Homo sapiens: one gene and its partners. The protein of the gene in region 1 purifies or fractionates together with the protein of each later gene. This does not show direct contact. Each region holds a gene or a part of one and is shown in the gene's direction. Other genes may lie near its edges. The genes, in order: RAB29, ITPR1 and ATP7A.

The links.
Region 2: the proteins of RAB29 (region 1) and ITPR1 purify together in Homo sapiens (affinity purification with mass spectrometry; 2 studies listed by BioGRID and IntAct, with this or other methods). This does not show direct contact.
Region 3: the proteins of RAB29 (region 1) and ATP7A purify together in Homo sapiens (affinity purification with mass spectrometry; 2 studies listed by BioGRID and IntAct, with this or other methods). This does not show direct contact.

The regions. Positions count from the first base shown.
Region 1 is NC_000001.11:205,767,368-205,772,483, reverse strand, and holds the end of RAB29 (ras-related protein Rab-7L1), read left to right. Parts: intron 1-830; coding exon 831-1,012; intron 1,013-1,629; coding exon 1,630-1,751; intron 1,752-2,030; coding exon 2,031-2,142; 3' UTR 2,143-4,498; downstream 4,499-5,116. UniProt on the Homo sapiens protein: The small GTPases Rab are key regulators in vesicle trafficking. Essential for maintaining the integrity of the endosome-trans-Golgi network structure.
Region 2 is NC_000003.12:4,678,250-4,685,368, forward strand, and holds part of ITPR1 (inositol 1,4,5-trisphosphate-gated calcium channel ITPR1), read left to right. Parts: intron 1-2,303; coding exon 2,304-2,442; intron 2,443-3,114; coding exon 3,115-3,169; intron 3,170-5,136; coding exon 5,137-5,302; intron 5,303-5,378; coding exon 5,379-5,549; intron 5,550-6,031; coding exon 6,032-6,097; intron 6,098-6,819; coding exon 6,820-6,957; intron 6,958-7,119. UniProt on the Homo sapiens protein: Inositol 1,4,5-trisphosphate-gated calcium channel that, upon inositol 1,4,5-trisphosphate binding, mediates calcium release from the endoplasmic reticulum (ER).
Region 3 is NC_000023.11:77,983,649-77,990,767, forward strand, and holds part of ATP7A (copper-transporting ATPase 1), read left to right. Parts: intron 1-4,593; coding exon 4,594-5,083; intron 5,084-5,584; coding exon 5,585-6,310; intron 6,311-7,119. UniProt on the Homo sapiens protein: ATP-driven copper (Cu(+)) ion pump that plays an important role in intracellular copper ion homeostasis.

The DNA.
Region 1 (5,116 bases):
GGCTAGATAGGAACAAGGGAAGAAATTTTGATTTAACTAGAAAGCTCTGAGGAAAAAATGGGGCAGCAAAGCCAGAAATTGTTTTTCTGAAGCTGGAATGATTGAGCTGCTCTGAGGACACATGAGCTGAATAGGTGCAGAGCTTTTGTAGATGTTTTGCCCTGAATAGATCTGGAGCAGTCTCTATGTGGATGGAGGGGCTGGCAAGGTGGTGGATTGTCCAGACTATAGGTGGACACTCCCACAGCAGGGGAGGGTGCTTTTTCTAGGTTTAAGGCTGACCTTGGTGAAAAACAAGATCCCCAGAAAATAGATACAGTAAAAATAGTGAATCCTTACTATGTGCCAAGCATTCTTCTAAGTATTTTAAATTCACTGACTCATTAATCCTCACATCAACCCTATCATAAAAGCTACTGCTTTTGGAGAATTGCTTGAACCTGGGAGGTGGAGGTTGCAGTGAGCCTAGATGGCACCACTGCACTCCAGCCTGGGCAACAGGAGTGCAGGAAACTGTTTCAAAAAAAAAAAAAAAAAGCGACTGCTTTTATCTTCACTTTACAAATGAGAAATCTGAAGCACTGAGAGCTTGATTTGCCCGAAGTCAAATAGTATGCAGCAGAGCAGGGATTTGGACTGGAGCAATCTGGGTGCGGAATCTGCCTTGGAAATAATTGGGCTTCATTATCCCTTTATGGGATAGAAAACCAAGAGTCAGAGGGGGAAAGTGAGTGGCCCCATCTGACACATATGCTTACTGCCCTCTTCTACAAGGAATGGGGAGAGGCCGGCTCTTGGGTCACCTTGAGAACTCTCCCCTTTCTCCCCAGGGCAGGAGCGCTTCACCTCTATGACACGATTGTATTATCGGGATGCCTCTGCCTGTGTTATTATGTTTGACGTTACCAATGCCACTACCTTCAGCAACAGCCAGAGGTGGAAACAGGACCTAGACAGCAAGCTCACACTACCCAATGGAGAGCCGGTGCCCTGCCTGCTCTTGGCCAACAAGGTATGTGGCCAATCTCAGAAAATGGTCCCTAGCCTCTATCTGTGGTTAGAAAGGAAGTAAAATGCTCTCTGATTCTGGGCATCCATTTCCCCTTCTTAAGTTGGCAAAATCATCTCTACCTCCTTCAAAGGATGTTGAGGGTGAGTGAGACTTTCTTTCTTTTTTTTTTTTTTGAGACGGAGTCTCGCTCTGTTGCTCAGGCTGGAGTGCAGTGGCGCGATCTCGGCTCACTGCCAGCTCTGCCTCCCAGGTTCACGCCATTCTCTTGCCTCAGCCTCCCGAGTAGCTGGGACTACAGGTGCCCACCACCACACCCAGCTAATTTTTTTGTATTTTTAGTAGAGACTGGGTTTCATTGTGTTAGCCAGGATGGTCTCGCTCTCCTGACCTCATGATCTGCCCGCCTCAGCCTCCCAAAGTGCTGGGATTACAGGCGTGAGCCACTGCGCCCAGCCAAGGGTGAGACTTTCTTTGGGAAGAATGTTGATTATAGATTTCCGATGCTGGTGTTCTTATCCATTGGTGGAAATATGTTTAAAATCCACAGTATCTGAGCCATATTCTTTCTTAGTTGCAGGAAGTTTATGATACTGCCTTTTATTTTTTCTCTTTGCTAGTGTGATCTGTCCCCTTGGGCAGTGAGCCGGGACCAGATTGACCGGTTCAGTAAAGAGAACGGTTTCACAGGTTGGACAGAAACATCAGTCAAGGAGAACAAAAATATTAATGAGGCTATGAGGTAAGTAGCTCATGCTGATAGGCATGCAGATGTATCCATCTTCCACTGTGGCCCTGTGGACCCTCTTTTCTTATTTCTGAGCCAACAATGACAGACTGAGCCATTGGAATGCTAGCCCCTAAAGGTCAGGGATACTGTCTTTCCTGAGATAACTGGGGACAAAGGGGCATTTAAACCTTCTGGCTTTACCAAATACTCTCTGATGATAAGTCAGACTACATCTGCCATTTCTGCTTTTCCTCCAAAATAAGCTTCTCAGGCTTATTTTTTGTCTTTTAGAGTCCTCATTGAAAAGATGATGAGAAATTCCACAGAAGATATCATGTCTTTGTCCACCCAAGGGGACTACATCAATCTACAAACCAAGTCCTCCAGCTGGTCCTGCTGCTAGTAGTGTTTGGCTTATTTTCCATCCCAGTTCTGGGAGGTCTTTTAAGTCTCTTCCCTTTGGTTGCCCACCTGACAATTTTATTAAGTACATTTGAATTGTCTCCTGACTACTGTCCAGTAAGGAGGCCCATTGTCACTTAGAAAAGACACCTGGAACCCATGTGCATTTCTGCATCTCCTGGATTAGCCTTTCACATGTTGCTGGCTCACATTAGTGCCAGTTAGTGCCTTCGGTGTAAGATCTTCTCATCAGCCCTCAATTTGTGATCCGGAATTTTATGAGAAGGATTAGAAATCAGCACCTGCGTTTTAGAGATCATAATTCTCACCTACTTCTGAGCTTATTTTTCCATTTGATATTCATTGATATCATGACTTCCAATTGAGAGGAAAATGAGATCAAATGTCATTTCCCAAATTTCTTGTAGGCCGTTGTTTCAGATTCTTTCTGTCTTGGAATGTAAACATCTGATTCTGGAATGCAGAAGGAGGGGGTCTGGGCATCTGTGGATTTTTGGCTACTAGAAGTGTCCCAGAAGTCACTGTATTTTTGAAACTTCTAACGTCATAATTAAGTTTCTCTTGTCTTGGCATCAAGAATAGTCAAGTTTTTTGGCCGGGCATGGTGGCTCATGCCTGTAATCCCAGCACTTGGGGAGGCCAAGGCAGGCGGATCACATGAGGCCAGGAATTCGAGACCAACCTGGTCAGCATGGCAAAACCCCGTCTCTACTAAAAGTACAAAAATTAGCCAGGCGTGATGGCACGTGTCTGTAATCCCAGCTACTCTGGAGACTGAGGTGGGAGAATCGCTTGAGACTGGGAGGCAGAGGTTGCAGTGAACCGAGATCATGCCACCGCACTTCAGCCTGGGTGACAGAGAAGGACTCCGTCTCAAAAAAAAAAGAAAAAAGAATAGTCATTTTTAAACTACCTATCTCATGCAATGAAAGCATTTTCTTCCACAAAGAGCTTAATCCTCATGATAGGATTGCCTAGTGTCTCCCATTTGCAGGTTTCTGGGTTGATGTCTTAATGCATAATACTGCAAGTGACATCAGCTGGCTGTGATGCTTCGAAATAGGTCTGCTCCTCACAGCTTTGGGAATCTGAATGGAAGAAGAAAAGAGAGAAGTTAACAACCTCCACTGGGGCAACTTTGTGAACACGTAGGCACTTAGTCATAGGAAACATATTATGTGCAGGTCCTAGCCTGGGGGAGGAAAGTAGATAGACAGAAAATCATTAGGTAATTTAAGTACTAAATTGGGCAGGGCTTTTTAGTATCAAATCACTACTAGACCATTTAATTTGTTAAATTATCTCTAGGATGGTGATTTATAACCTACCCAAAGTTATCGATATTCTTACTAAACTCTGAGGCCTGAAGTTCTGTGATAGACCTTAAATAAGTGTCCTAAGTCAGTGGTTCCCAAATCTGGCTGGTCGGGAATACCTGGGAAGTTTGTTAAAATTTTTTAAAAATGTTTTAAGATTTTTGGGTCCTGAGCCAGCCGTGGTGGCTCACACCTGTAATCCCAGCACTTTGGGAGGCTGAGGCAGGTGGATCGCCTGAGGTCAGGAGTTCAAGATCAACCTGGCCAACATACTGAAACCCCGTCTCTACTAAAAATAAGAAAAATTAGCTGGGCGTGGTGGCGGGCACCTGTAATCCCAGCTACTTGGGAGACTGAGGCAGGAGAATCGCTTGAACCTGGGAGTTAGAGGTTGCAGTGAGCTGAGATCACACCATTGCGCTTCAGCCTGGGCAACAAGAGTGAAACTCCATCTCCAAAAAAAAAAAACAAAAAGAAAAAGATTTTTGGGTCCCGACCTCAAACCTACTGAATCAGAATTTCTAGGGATGAAGCCTAGGAATGTGTTGTTGTTTTCAGAGCTTCCCTGGTGATTGTGATAAGCCTGGTTTGGAAACCATTGCTGGAGAACTTTGTAAAGATACAGAGACCCAGACCTTTTGTATTTACATTTAAATACAAATACAAATCCTGGGTTTCTATATATTCTGTTAGCTTTTCAGGTGATTCTGCTACACAGACGTTGAAAACCACTGCCCTAAGAAAGAGATCAGAGGCCACATATCAGAGAGAAAAGGGACCAAACCTTCGGTGGTTTGTTGTGTGTCGTTTTAATGCCAATTATTTTAACTTGCACAGTCTTCTGAAACCTTGTATTAATAGTTCTCTTTTGTATTACCATTTTCAGGTAGGGTTTTGATCACTATGATTCTGAAGATAATAGTGAAATAGTGAATTTCATTGATATGAAGAGATAATTGATTTTCATTCATTGGTTTGAACACCTGCAAAATCACAAATAAATGAGAACTAAGTCTTGTATTCATGGTGGTTATTGGCCTTTAATGTGAGTTTGTCAAAGTGCTGTTTTATACTGATAGCTCAAGAGGATTGCGGAAATGGAGACTTTATTTTTTAAATACCTTTTTCTAAATTTTCAATTCAAGGGGTACGTGTGCAAGTTTGTTACATGGATATATTGTGTGATGCTAAAGCTTGGGTTTCTGCTTAGCCTGTCTCCCAAGTAGTGAACATAGCACCCAGTCGGCACTTTTTCAACGCTTACTCCCTCTCTCCCCACTTTTGGGAGTCTCCAGTGTCTGTTGTTCCCATCTTTATGTGTGTGCCCAATGTTTACCTCCCACTTACAAGTGAGAAATGTGGTTAAATACCTTCTTTTAAAATGAAGGTAAATATTATTCTGTTTACCTGTTAACTTACTAATACCAATTGCTTAGATCCATCTGCCTAGTACCAATTCAGTACTTGATGGAACATGCCAAATACTACTTGGAAACGTGACCTTTTTGAAAAACTGAATGTGCTTGCTTTTCCCATTTGCTGACTCAGGATTTACCTGCCTTTTCAAGCATTGTTAGAGGCTGGCCAGCCAGCCAGCCCTTCTGGATATTCTCTCCCAACTGGTGAACATTATAGGCC
Region 2 (7,119 bases), on another chromosome or scaffold:
AGAAAGATTCCTTTTTTAAAACTTTATTTTTTAATAAATTTTATTTTTACTTTTATTTTCAATTTTTTTTGTCGAGACAAAATATACATATAAAATTTGCAGGCCATGGTCCATGTGTTCCAAAGTGGTGTCTTGGACGTTTATCAGAAACGACGCAGTGCAAAACTTGGTCACATCTTGAGGTCCACTCACCGTGGTGACCTAAGAAGGATTGGTCGATTGAGTCATTCTTTCCACGGGTACTTATTGACTCCCTACCATGTGCACTGTGAGGAATGCAAAAATGATTCGAACAGGGGCTCCATCCACAGGGGTTTATAGTCTGATGGGAGAATAAGGTATGATGAAGCTGCGTGGATGTGGAAATAAAACCACCAGAAAGTTCTTCTGAGACTGGAGTCCGGGAGTGGGGTCATGTGACTCCACATGGTAAAGATCAGAGAAGGGTTGATGGAGGAGGTAGGGTTTCATCTGAGCCTTTAAGGTGCATGGGCTTTGTACATGGAGAAACAAGGGCCCGTTCTCAGGTGGATGGAGCAGCCTGAAGCCGAGTACCATGGGATGCAGGTCAGTGGGCAGTTCTTGCTGAGCAGAGACATAGAGTGTGCTGAGGGGAAGTTGTCAGAAGTGAGTTTGGAAAGGAGGACCAAGCCACACTGCACAGAGCTTTGGGTGTCTAAAATGCTAAGGCTTATTCTCTGTTGAGCCTTTGAAAGTCTTCAAGCGGGAGCTTAACATAAGAACAAGTGGTTAGGAGGCTGATTTGGTGAATTTGGTTCTGTAAATGGAACAGGCAGGAGATAATGAGGCCTTGAGCAGGGAGAAACGGCAGTAGGGGAGAACTCTATGAGAAGCGGTAAATGGAGAACCACCAGGACTTAGTCTCTGATTAGATGTGTGTCCAGGAAGGAGGCGCTGATGATCAGGCAACTGACTGAGGTTGAGGAAACCCAGGCAGAAAGTAGATGAAGGCAAGACTGACAATGTTAGTGTGTTAGCGCTCTCCAGAGAAACAGAACAAATAGGATACATACAGATAGACAAGAGGGGGTTTATTATGGGAATTGGCCTCACGCAGTTACGGAGGCCGAGAAGTCCCCCAGTCTGCCACAGCAAGCTGTGTCCCGGGAAAGCCAGTGGTGTGATTCAGCCTGAGTCCCAAGGCTGAGAACCAGGGGAGCTGAAGGTGTAACTCTCAGTCTGAGGCCAAAAGCCGGAGAACCTGGAGCTCTGATGGGCAGGAGAAGATGAGTGTCCCAGCTCCAGAACAGGTGGATTCGGTCTTCCTCCACCTGTTTGCTCTATCCAGGCCCTCCGTGGATTGGATGGTGCCCACTCACACTGGGTGAGAGCGGATCTTCTTTACTCAGCTCACTGATTCAAATGCCAGTCCATTCTGGAAACCCCCTCATAGATTTACCCGGAAATAAAGTTGTACAAGCTGTCTAGGTGTCCTTGAACCCAGTCAAGTTGGCATATAAAATTAACCATCGCAGTTACTTTTGTGAAACACTGAGTTTGAGGCCCTGGGAAGATAGCAAATAGGATGTCCAACAGTCTGTAGGACACATACACTGAGAGCATGGAGGCAGGCCAGAGACCTATCTCCCTCTGGAAGAGGTGATGGCCACTGGACTGGGAAAGGTTGCTGGGAGGCTAAGCAGAGACAAGGGGAGAACGGAAGGAAGAACGTGAGTGAGATCCCTACATGATGTCAGCTGCTCAATCTTTCTTTTTGGTTCTAGCAGCAATCCTGGGAAAAGTGACCCTGTGTTGGAATAAAGGGTGAGGGAATACAGGAGGCAAAAGAAGAGGGTGTCCAAGGGTTTGTACCCAAACCAGGGGAAACAACCAGAAACAGGAAATAGGAACCAAGCTAATTTTCCATAGTAAAAAACAAATTTTTTTTTGTTAATTCTCTTAAATCCAAAGCAGGCAACTTCACTCTTTTCAGTGTTAGGCCCAGAGTTGACATTCAATACTTACTGAAATGGAGTCTTGTTTTATAGACTCCATTTATGGAGCCAGGAGTGAGTGATTTAGTGTTCCAATTGTTAAATTAATTGCCAGGATGCTGAAGCTTACACTAGAGGCTAAGGTGCTATGGGCAGACTTCATATGCCCCATGGAAGTCTGCTGTTGTTAAAATGACTGTTGAAATCTAAGCCAAATACTTGGCTCACTTAGTGCTTAAGGTAATTGATGCAGCTGATACCAGGCCCCGCCAGTGTGTGGTGGCTTGGCAGAGTCAAGATGGTATGTTAATGTAACCAATCTGTTTCCATTTCCACTTGAATCTTTAGTTTATTTTGAATGTGAGGTTGGATTATAGGATCTCCTGCCTCCTGTGTATATTTAAGCGAGAGTTTGATGAAAGCAATTCCCAGACTTCAGAAACATCCTCCGGAAACAGCAGCCAAGAAGGGCCAAGTAATGTACCAGGTTAGTGATTCAGAATGGAATTTCAGCCATAGAATGGGACCTGGCTCTAAGGAAAATGGGGAGAGCAAACAGTATCTTCTAGAAAAAGGGTGAAAATGGTTTTGAGGATTATTGCACCAGGGCATCATCCTGGCAGTTACTCTTTTTGAGCAAGTGAATAATTGATAGAGCCCAGATTCCTTCTGGGTTGGATCTTGTTTCCTTCCATCTGGGAGTGTCTTAGTGATGAGACAGTTGAGGTTTCCAGCATTGTGGCTACCCACCTCCCCCGCAAAAATACCAAAATAAAAACAGTAACAAAAAACTCTCCAGGAGACTTCTTGACCACTAGCAGCTTTTACTCACTTTGGAAGTTTTTCCCTGCCCAGGAACTAGTGGTGACGGGAGATGGTAGGAGTAGAAATAATCCCATCTACCAAGCCCAAGCTTCCATGAGTGAGATCATTGCTGTCCTTTACCAGGGGACCATGCAGTGAGGGAGGAAGGGGCAGGAATGTGGAATATGTGGTTAATGTCATCTGGGTTAGTCACTCTGCATAGCTTTGCAATATAATGTTCTGGGAGATTTGGGGTTAACTCAACAGCTTTACCCTGCAAAACTTATGGATGAGTTCACCAGCAGCATGTTTGCAGACCTTCCTGCATCTGAAGTGGTATGTTCTAACTTTTCAGGTGCTCTTGACTTTGAACACATTGAAGAACAAGCAGAAGGCATCTTTGGAGGAAGGAAAGTATATTTTCAGTTACTGTTTTGTAGGGAAGGCTGCTCTTCCAGAGCTCTCAGAGGCCTTCCCTTTATTATGTTAGTAAATATTTAGTCTCTGGGCTTAGGTTGTTTTGGTGCTATCTTTGGAACTGTTAGTACTCAAGTCAGAGTTAACTTGGTTGGCTTGATTGGGAGGAGAGAGAGAGTGAGAGAGAGAGAGAGAGAAAGTGTGTGTGTGTGTGTGTGTGTGTGTGTGTGTGTCCCACCTAGGACAGAAAGGATTTAAGGAGATTTCTCAAAATACCTACATTACAAGATTATTTTTACATAGTGAGGAAATGCAATCAAAAGAAGAATAGAAAGAGAGAGGGGCTCAAAACAGAGTGAAGTTAGTAAGATCATGTCCTGCTGCTGCTGCTGGGCTACAATTTTATCCCTGAGCTCCTTACAGGCTATGCAACAAAGAAAGCAAAATCTGGTCTTTCATTGTTCCTAATATTAATGTATGAACCCCTTTAAAAAAAAACCGCACTGGTCAATTTTGACTTAAGACATTATTATAATTATGGAACTCTTATACCTCCAAGTATAAAATTTGGTATAAACACCATATGCACATAGTTCTTATAATTAGCACACTTGGTTTGATTATTGCTTTATAACATATTACTCCAAAAAACTTAAGGATTCAAACCACCACCATTTTATTAATACTTCTTACAGTCCTGTGGCTTGATTAAGCTGGATGGTTCTTCTGCTGGTGGTCACTGTTGGGTCTGTCATACTGTAGTGAGGTGGTAACTGGGGCTGGCACCTCCAAGTTGGATTATTCACATTTCTGGCACTATAGCAGAGATGCCTGCAAGGCCAGAACTTCTTTCTCTCTCTGTCCATGTGGATAGCTTGGGCTTCTTTACAGCACGGTGGCTGACTCAAAAAGCAAATGTTCTAAGAGGACAAGCCAACAGTATGCAAGTGCTAATTGGGCCTCTGCTTGCATTGCATCTCCTAATATCTTATTGTTCAAGCAAATCCCATGGCCAAGCTCATTGTCAGTGTGGGAGGGGACTACATAAGGGTTTGAACACTCTGTTGGGGCCCACCAGTGTTAATAGTCTACCTCAATGCTTAATATAAAACCTGTGAAATTTGAATTAGCAACATTATGTACTATGATGGAAGATGTTTTTCTGAAACTTAAACATGGTATTGTGAGTTTAGCATAATACAGGTTCCATGTGCTGTGTGATCACTCAGCTCTCCCGCCATTTTCCTCATAGTGAACAGCATTGAAACCTTCACACCTTTTTGGAATACATAGCATGAATACAGTATTTATAAGTCTTCTCTGTGCTTTTCTTATTAGCCAGCAACCAGGAAGTTTCCACCATTTGTCATTCATTTGACTCTAAACCCAATATAGGTGCAGACCCAATAATTGACTAGCAGTGCTCAGTTATGGAGTAGTCTGCCATTTGATCTAGGATATGCTTATTAATATTTAAATATAGTCAGGCATGGTAGTGCATTCCTATAGTCCCAGCTACTCAGTATGCTAAGGCAGGAGGATCATTTGAGCATAGGAGTTTGAATTCAGCCTGGGCAACATAGCAAGACCTCATCTCTAAAAACTAAATACATAAACTAATAACTTAGGAGAAACACATCCTCTTGCAGTTCTCAGACCACAGACGAAGCCCAGCAGAAGAACACCCTATGTAGATGTTGAGAATCTAATGCTAGTCTTGTCACTTTGGCTTAAAATTTGACTTATCTTTTAATATGACATCTTCCTTGTCCCCTCACCTCATAATATAGTTGAAGATGAAGCAAGGCTGTATTGTTAAAGGAGCTAATGAAAAGTGAAATTGCATGTCTGGAGATCACAGTGCTAGAAATGCAACTAGGTTAGGTGCATCTGGGCCCAAGGGGCGTGAGAGGAGGCATTTGTCATTCATTTGGCCTTTCCCCACCTTGTGCTCCTTTAGTGAGGAGAACACCCCACTGGACTTGGATGACCACGGCGGCAGAACCTTTCTCCGTGTCCTGCTCCACTTGACGATGCATGACTACCCACCCCTGGTGTCAGGGGCCCTGCAGCTCCTCTTCCGGCACTTCAGCCAGAGGCAGGAGGTGCTCCAGGCCTTCAAACAGGTAGCTCAGGTCACCCACGTGTGTGTTGTCTGTCCAAGAAGCTGTTGTGTGCACCTAACGGATTGCGTTCATTAAGGTTCAACTGCTGGTTACCAGCCAAGATGTGGACAACTACAAACAGATCAAACAAGACTTGGATCAACTGAGGTCCATCGTGGAAAAGTCAGAGCTTTGGGTGTACAAAGGGCAGGGCCCCGATGAGACTATGGATGGTGCATCTGGAGAAAATGAACATAAGAAAACGGAGGTGAGTGAAACACAAGTTATGCTGCCAAAGTGGATGGATGGGCTTCTCGAAACTAGGGAGCATCCTCTTCTGGTTTTAGGTATAAATGTGATAGGATTTATTTTCAAGAGATCTGCTTGTTAAGTCACCAAGATCACAAGCTGTTTGCCTAGGAAATAAGCTACGAATCAAAGTTTAGCTATGTCTCCTGTGCAGCCTTGGACCATGTAGAAGAGACTGCGATATTGAGTGAATTAGCACCAGGTTTCCCTTACAGACCCACTTGGGAATTGACCTGTTCTCTAGGCATGGCCCAGCCCACTACTATCCCTTCCCAAGGAAACCCATAGCAAGTAGGTAGATGACTGGGGCATAAGCCCAGCATGACTATTGTAAAACAGTATAGAACTCCCTTTCTTTCCTAAAGGTCGATGCTAACTGTAAAAAACTGACAGTAGCCCAAGAGTTGTACAGATCACACTTGTGTTCACTTTGGTTTCTAGGAGGGAAATAACAAGCCACAAAAGCATGAAAGCACCAGCAGCTACAACTACAGAGTGGTCAAAGAGGTAAGCTCCTCCCCCACCACCATTTTTCCTTTCTTTATGAATTCTCTAAGGAGCTTTAGTTTGTGATAGTCAAGTTGAAGGTACACACATTTGAGCTTTTTTCTTCATGTGGTTTAACAGGGAGAAAGTAGAGCTCAGAGGTTAAGCTCATGGGTTTTGGCATCAGATCTGGGCTCCACACCCAGCTCTTCTACTTATTATTTTTGTCCTCAGCTTCCTCACCTTTTGTAGGTGCAACCTTTCGTAGGCACCGCATATTTCTGAAGCTTTACAATTGAAGGAAGGACTAATTGAGAATACTGTCAGGGAGTCATCTAAGTGCCTGGTACACAGTGTCCCCACTGAGAGCTGTAGTTTTTTAGAAACCTTTGCGTACGCTGGTTCAAAGTTGGGAGGCTGGGAGCTTTGTGTGTTTTACCCCAGAGCAAACTCTTCCCAGGGTCTCGGCAATGATGCCAGGTCATTCCATTTTAAGCGATATCTCTGAAACTGTCCCACTTGTTGTTGAAGCCATAATCCCCTGCTTATTCTGGAAGACGTGACCTTAGTCTTATGGATTTGGCTTGATGGAGTCAACAGAAATGCCACATACTGAAGGAATTTTGTTTTACGTTTTTAATGCATTATAATCCCCTTTGCCTCCCTGCCCGCCACCACCCTCTGCAATCTTTTTCCAGCTATAGTTCCTAGTTTTCTGAGACTGATTTCTTTCATTCTACTAGATTTTGATTCGGCTTAGCAAACTCTGTGTTCAAGAGAGTGCCTCAGTGAGAAAGAGCAGGAAGCAGCAACAGCGTCTGCTCCGGAACATGGGCGCGCACGCCGTGGTGCTGGAGCTGCTGCAGATTCCCTATGAGAAGGTGAGCGGTGCCTCATGCACAGCAGCTGCTCTCAGGATGGGGCGGATCCCTGGGTTTCCCCAAACTCTTCACATCTGGATATTGTTAGTGAAGAAATGCATCCAGTGTGACTATTGTGACTACAAAGCAATTTCAGGTATTGATATGAAACAGAGCATCTGA
Region 3 (7,119 bases), on another chromosome or scaffold:
TTTCCTATGAGCTATATTTATAATTTGTAGGCTGTTACATTTATTTTCAGAGGAACTTTTTTTTTTTTCCGAGACGGAGTTTCACTCTCTTGTCCAGGCTGGAGTGCAGTGGCACGACCTCCGCCTCCCGGGTTCAAGCGATTCTTGTGCCTCAGCCTCTTGAGTAGCTGGGATTACAGGCGCCCGCCACCATGCCCAGATAATTTTTACATTTTTAGTAGAGACGGGGTTTCACCATGTTGGCCAGGCTGGTCTCGAACTCCTGGCCTTAAGTGATACACCCACCTCGGCCTCCCAAAGTGCTGGGATTACAGGCATGAGCCACCACTCCGGCCCAGAGGAACGATTGATATAATGGAAAAATAGTTCCTCTGAAAATAAAAATAACAACATTGGTTCCTAATAAAAGATTAAGAGAAAAAGACAAGCTGTCGAAATATTGGAGCAATGTGGGGAATGAGGAAGGTGGGGTAGGGCAGAGAAGGGAAGTTATTTTTGGAGCAGGGGTTGGGGTTAGAGGACATATGAAAGGAGAGCAGCACAGACCCGGAATCAGACTGCCGCCAGCACTTTCCAGCTCTATGGAGTCTGCCTGGTTTTGCTCATCACTGTATCTCTAGCAGCTAGCATAGTGCCGGGCACATAATGGACATTCAATAAATATTTGTTGAATACATAAGTACCTTTTTTTTTTTTTGAGGCGAAGTCTTGTTTTGCCGCCCAGCCTGGAGTGCAGTGGTGCAATGTCGGCTCACTGCAACCTCCACCTCCCGAGGTTCTTCAAGTGATTCTTCAAGTGGTTCTTCAAGTGGTTCTTCAAGTGATTCTCCTGCCTCAGCCTCCCGAGTAGCTGGGATTACAGGCACCCACCACCACGGCCAGCTAATTTTTGTATTTTTGGTAGAGACGGGTTTTCCTGCATTGGCTAGGCTGGCCTCAAACTGTGACCTCAAGTGATCCGCACACCTCAGCCTCCCAAAGTGCTGGGATTACAGGTGTGAGCCACCACGCCCAGCCAATAAGTACCATTTTGACTTCCTGCCCAAAGATTTAGCACCCAGAGCTGTACTGTGAATTTGTTTCCTTTGAGACCTTAGGTTTGAAAAGTCTCTTTGCTATCTAACATTCAGAGGCAAAGTTGAGTGCTGTTACCCCAAAGAGGGATACTTTTGTTTGTGCTGAGTGTGGTTGGTCAGCTTTTAAAACAGAAATAGAATTTACTAAAGGAAGTGTTTTCTCATCTGCAGCATGCAAATAGCGTAGGGTACTTTGACTTCTCTTTTGTGTAGTATTTTATGCATAGTTTTCTTATGCCTTTTATAAATAAAAGATAGGCTAAAGCAGTTAGAAAGTATAGCAAACCATCCAGTGACAAAGTGATTTTTTTTTTTGAGACAGTGTCACTCTGTCACCCAGGCTGGAGTGCAGTGGCACGACTTTGGCTCACTGCAGCCTTGACCTTCAGGCTCAGGCAATCCTCCCACCTCAGCCCCTTGAGCAGCTGGGACTACAGGAGTGTGTCACCATGCCTGGGTAATTTTTGTATTTTTTGTGGAGACAGGGTTCCACCATGTTGCCCAGACTGGTCTGGAATTCCTGAGCTCAAGCTATCTGCCCAACCACCTCAGCATCCCAAAGTGCTAGGATTACAGGCGTGTGCCACCTGGCCTGAGGAAGTGATTTTTGCTTTTAAAATGAGAACAATTTCTGATTGGCTATGTTGGTAAATTGACATTTTTGGGGGGGGTGGGTGCGGGGGAACCAGGTCTTGTTTAAGATGTACCGGATACAACGTATTTAAAGGGCAAGAATCCTTTACGTTGGTACTTTATCAGAAAAAGTATAGTAGTACCTAGAGCAATACCACCCAAGAATGGTCTGTGATGATGGAAATACTGTGTATCCGCCCTGTCTGGTAGGACTAACCACATTGGCCAATGAACACTTGAAATGTGGCTAGTGCAACCGAGGAACTGAATTTTTAATCTTATTTAATAGTTTTTTTTGTTTTAAAAAATAATCATCTAGTAAAATAGACTTTTTTTGGGTATATAGTTCTATGAAATTTTTTTTTAGTTTTGTGAATGTTAACACATGTATAGATTTGTTTAACACCAACACAACCAGGACATAGCGCAGCCCTGTTACCCCTAAAAAACTCCCTCTTGCTACCATTTTCCCTACCTCTAACCCCTGGAAACCACTGTTCTGTTCTCCATCTTCCCCTTTAGTTGGAAAGTTTAAATTATTTACAGTCATTTTCTTAACCCTAAAATCACCTCAGGGGAGGGAAATTAAAGTTTAAAAGAGGCCTTCTTTAAAAACACAAGGACACAAAAGCCTTCATTTGATGGTGGCTACTCTTATATTGCATGTCTTTCAATACTATATGTCTCAACTATACGTGGTTTGACTATTCTGCATTTTTTTTTCATGGAAAATGTTATATAGTATTATCCAAAACCAAATATAATTTATTTCCCCACTTCTGTTTTGGATCATTTATGCTAGTGATTTCCTCCATCCCTAAGAACCAGCTAGCCAACTAGAATTATCAGAGTCTTAGAAACTTTCCATGCCATGGGTACATTTCACATTTTCACCCAAATACACAGTCATCAATTATCAAGCTAAAGGAAGAAATAAAAATATGTTCATTAAAATAAGTGAAAGATTTAACTATTGTAGACAATTTAAAGAGAGATTTTCTATGCTGAATTACTTTTAATTATAATTTTGAGTTTTTATTTTATAGAGCAAAGCTTTTCACTAGAAATTAATAACACCTATATTTAACTGCTTTTTTGAATATTAATATCCTATGGCCATCTCAAAAATCAATAGGTCCAGCACTGAATTTATCATCTCTCCTTTCCCTCCACTTTAACCTCTTAATTTCCTCCTGATTTCCTCCTCTCTTTCTGATATCAGTTAATGACGCCACCATCTATCTATCCACTGGCCCAAGCCAGATACCTTTAAGTCATCCTAGTCGTCTCCTTTATCCTATACATCTTGTTAGGAGGCCCTACCCTCCTGAATGTATCTTGGAGCTGCCTCTTTTATCTTTGCCCCCAGTATTCATGTCTTAATTCAGACCCTCTATTGCACTACTTTTGCAATTGCAGTAGCCTCCTAGCTGATAGTCCTCCCTCCTGTATCACTCCACCCTACTACACTATCATCTTCCACACTGCCTCCAGAATGATCCTTCTCTAAAATGAAAATCTAATCACATAATTCTCTGCTTAACTTTTCCATGGCTTCCTATTACCTATAGGATAAATCACAACCATTATTGGCATATAGAACCCCATAATAGAGCAGTTGCCTAATTTTCAAGCCTCTTATCTTTCTCTACTTTTTTGTTTCCATTCATCTGGAATTCTCTGCCTCATATATCCTTGCTGATTCCTGTTTGTCCTTTAACATTCAGGTATTATCTCTCCTAAGAATACTTTTCTGACCCATATTCCCAGGGATGAATGGGTATCCCTTTTCTGTATTCTCTGTCCTATTGTTCCTGTGACATGTTCAGCTTTGTATCCTGAGAATCCCAGTTCCTGACGCACATAATAAGTGCTCAATAAATATTAGTTGCTCAATGTTTAATTTTATATAATTCACTGCTGTTACGAAGAACTTTCCTATTTACTCGTATGATCCTTGTAATAGCCCTGGAAGATAATAGGGCATATTTTCTCATTTTTCAGATGGTAGAACTAATGGGTGTGGTTAGCTAATAAGTGGAGAATTGATGCTGGAACTTAAATCTTCTGACTCCCAACCCAGTATTTGTGTGTGTGTGTGTGTGTGTGTGTGTGTGTGTGTGTGTGTGTCTTCATCATGAATCTTTGTAAGATGTCAGCCAAAGAGATGCAATCATGACAGTAGTTAAATTATATGCAGTAACTAAGCTACAAGAATATAATCATTGTTTTATAATCTAATTGGGCAAAACAATAAAGATGTTCTTATTTTGAACAAAATTAATAGTATGCTCTAGTGACTTAGGGGGATATAGGAGTATATGCTATAAAATCCTATGAATACTGCCTTCACTCATAAACCGGCAGGCTTATACTTTTCTTGCCAACAAAGTTATCCTAATTGAACATTATTTTTATTTTTTTAAATTGACATATAATAGTTATACATATTTTTAGGAAATTGGACATTTTAAAATATTAAACTTCATATTACCTTTTATTTTTCTGTAGCTGATCCTGTTTCATGTATAACCTTTTCAGTTGGTAGAGTGTGAAGTGTTGGAGTAATTTATGAAAGGAATGGAAGGAAAGAGTAGTTTGTACTCTGTTGTGAAATTCTTGGGTGTGTTTGTCAATATACATGTTTCAAATGCCTGATAGGTACCACAGTCACATATGTCTGCATATATAACTTTACCATTCTTGTAGGTACACAAGACATTTTATGTTTCTTTCTAACAAGAAGAGTAAAAATGAAAACTAATAGGGAAACTCCATTAGATTGAGTTGTCTCACTCTTCTTGAATGTGGTGTGATGATTATTATTTTAAATCCTGTGTGATAGAATTTAATTAAACTGACTTTTGGAATTTCCTTCCAAAAGGTATCACTGGAAGAAAAAAATGCAACTATTATTTATGACCCTAAACTACAGACTCCAAAGACCCTACAGGAAGCTATTGATGACATGGGCTTTGATGCTGTTATCCATAATCCTGACCCTCTCCCTGTTTTAACTGACACCTTGTTTCTGACTGTTACGGCGTCACTGACTTTGCCATGGGACCATATCCAAAGCACATTGCTGAAGACCAAGGGTGTGACAGACATTAAAATTTACCCTCAGAAAAGAACTGTAGCAGTGACAATAATCCCTTCTATAGTGAATGCCAATCAGATAAAAGAGCTGGTTCCAGAACTCAGTTTAGATACTGGGACACTGGAGAAAAAGTCAGGAGCTTGTGAAGATCATAGTATGGCTCAAGCTGGTGAAGTCGTGCTGAAGATGAAAGTGGAAGGGATGACCTGCCATTCATGTACTAGCACTATTGAAGGAAAAATTGGGAAACTGCAAGGTGTTCAGCGAATTAAAGGTAATGTGTCTGGTGTTGATTGTTTTGTAAGGCTTAGGTGTCTGTTTTGATCTTTTAACTTTTTGCTTTCTTCTTAAGCATGAGTTTTGAATCCATGAGACTAGAGTGCTTGCTGTATCATTGAGGTACAGCATATTCCCAGGATTAAAAGTTAATGATTATAATTAAAGGTTACATAAACCTTGAACTGAAGAAAAGGCAGCTGGGTTGGCAATTCATGGAATTCAAGGTTCTTAACACAACATGACTAGGGTACTCTTTACCTCTAATATATTTTACTTAGGCATGGAGAAACTTGGAGACCATAGCTACAGTGGTCATATCTCTTACTTGTTTCTAGTCTATGCCAATAACATTTTCTGAAAAGAAAAAAAATTAAGAAAATATGATGACAAGAATGAGAGAGAAACAATTATTTGTGGTTATTGATTTAGAAAACAGAATGTTTTCTGAAGTAGCCCAGGAATAACTGAATTAATTATATTTCTTTTTATTAACTAGTCTCCCTGGACAATCAAGAAGCTACTATTGTTTATCAACCTCATCTTATCTCAGTAGAGGAAATGAAAAAGCAGATTGAAGCTATGGGCTTTCCAGCATTTGTCAAAAAGCAGCCCAAGTACCTCAAATTGGGAGCTATTGATGTAGAACGTCTAAAGAACACACCAGTTAAATCCTCAGAAGGGTCACAGCAAAGGAGTCCATCATATACCAATGATTCAACAGCCACTTTCATCATTGATGGCATGCATTGTAAATCATGTGTGTCAAATATTGAAAGTACTTTATCTGCACTCCAATATGTAAGCAGCATAGTAGTTTCTTTAGAGAATAGGTCTGCCATTGTGAAGTATAATGCAAGCTCAGTCACTCCAGAATCCCTGAGAAAAGCAATAGAGGCTGTATCACCGGGGCTATATAGAGTTAGTATCACAAGTGAAGTTGAGAGTACCTCAAACTCTCCCTCCAGCTCATCTCTTCAGAAGATTCCTTTGAATGTAGTTAGCCAGCCTCTGACACAAGAAACTGTGATAAACATTGATGGCATGACTTGTAATTCCTGTGTGCAGTCTATTGAGGGTGTCATATCAAAAAAGCCAGGTGTAAAATCCATACGAGTCTCCCTTGCAAATAGCAATGGGACTGTTGAGTATGATCCTCTACTAACCTCTCCAGAAACGTTGAGAGGAGCAATAGAAGACATGGGATTTGATGCTACCTTGTCAGGTAATTATCATTTTTTCTTTGATTACCCTAATGTTCTTTTACTTCCATTTTGCTGCTTCTTTTGGCATTTATCAATGAGAAATGATTCATAGGCACTGTAATTCCACTTTTGCAAATATGTCCTATGGAGGTAGCCAGCAGTATATACAAAGATGCATAAGGATGTTTGTATAATTGCTTATGATATTTAAAAACTGGAAACAATAACTCGTGGTGCAACAATAAATAACTCATGATGAAATGCTATGAAGTCATAAAACATTATGGTATTAAAGATAATTAATGCCACAGGAAGGTGTCTGAGGTATTTTGTTAAATGAAAAAAAGCTGAAAAGCTATATATACAATGTGATCAAAATTTTATAAAGAAATGTATCTGAATTTACGCCATGTATATATTGTTTATGTATATGAATAAGATTCCTGGTAGGATATGAACCAAAATTTTAACAGTGATTATCTTTGGGTGGTAGGATAAATGTGATTTTTGTTTCCATTGTGTTTCCTGGTTTTATAAGTTGTTTTTACAATAAGAATGTATGTATGTAGCTATGTATTTATATAATGGGGGAAGCCAGTGCTCTTTTAAAAACAAAAGTAGTTGAAATAAATAATAGGATTTTAACTATAATTTTATATTTAGGCATTCAAATTAAACTGACTCCAGAGCTGTCCCAAAGTTTTCGTATTTCCTGACAGCTCTTACCTTTGAACTGAAACAAAAAATGTATATTCAATGGAATTTAATTATGTGAAATTGTTCTTTTGAACCAGAATTGAACCTGGCCTTGAATTAAACTGGAAAATGC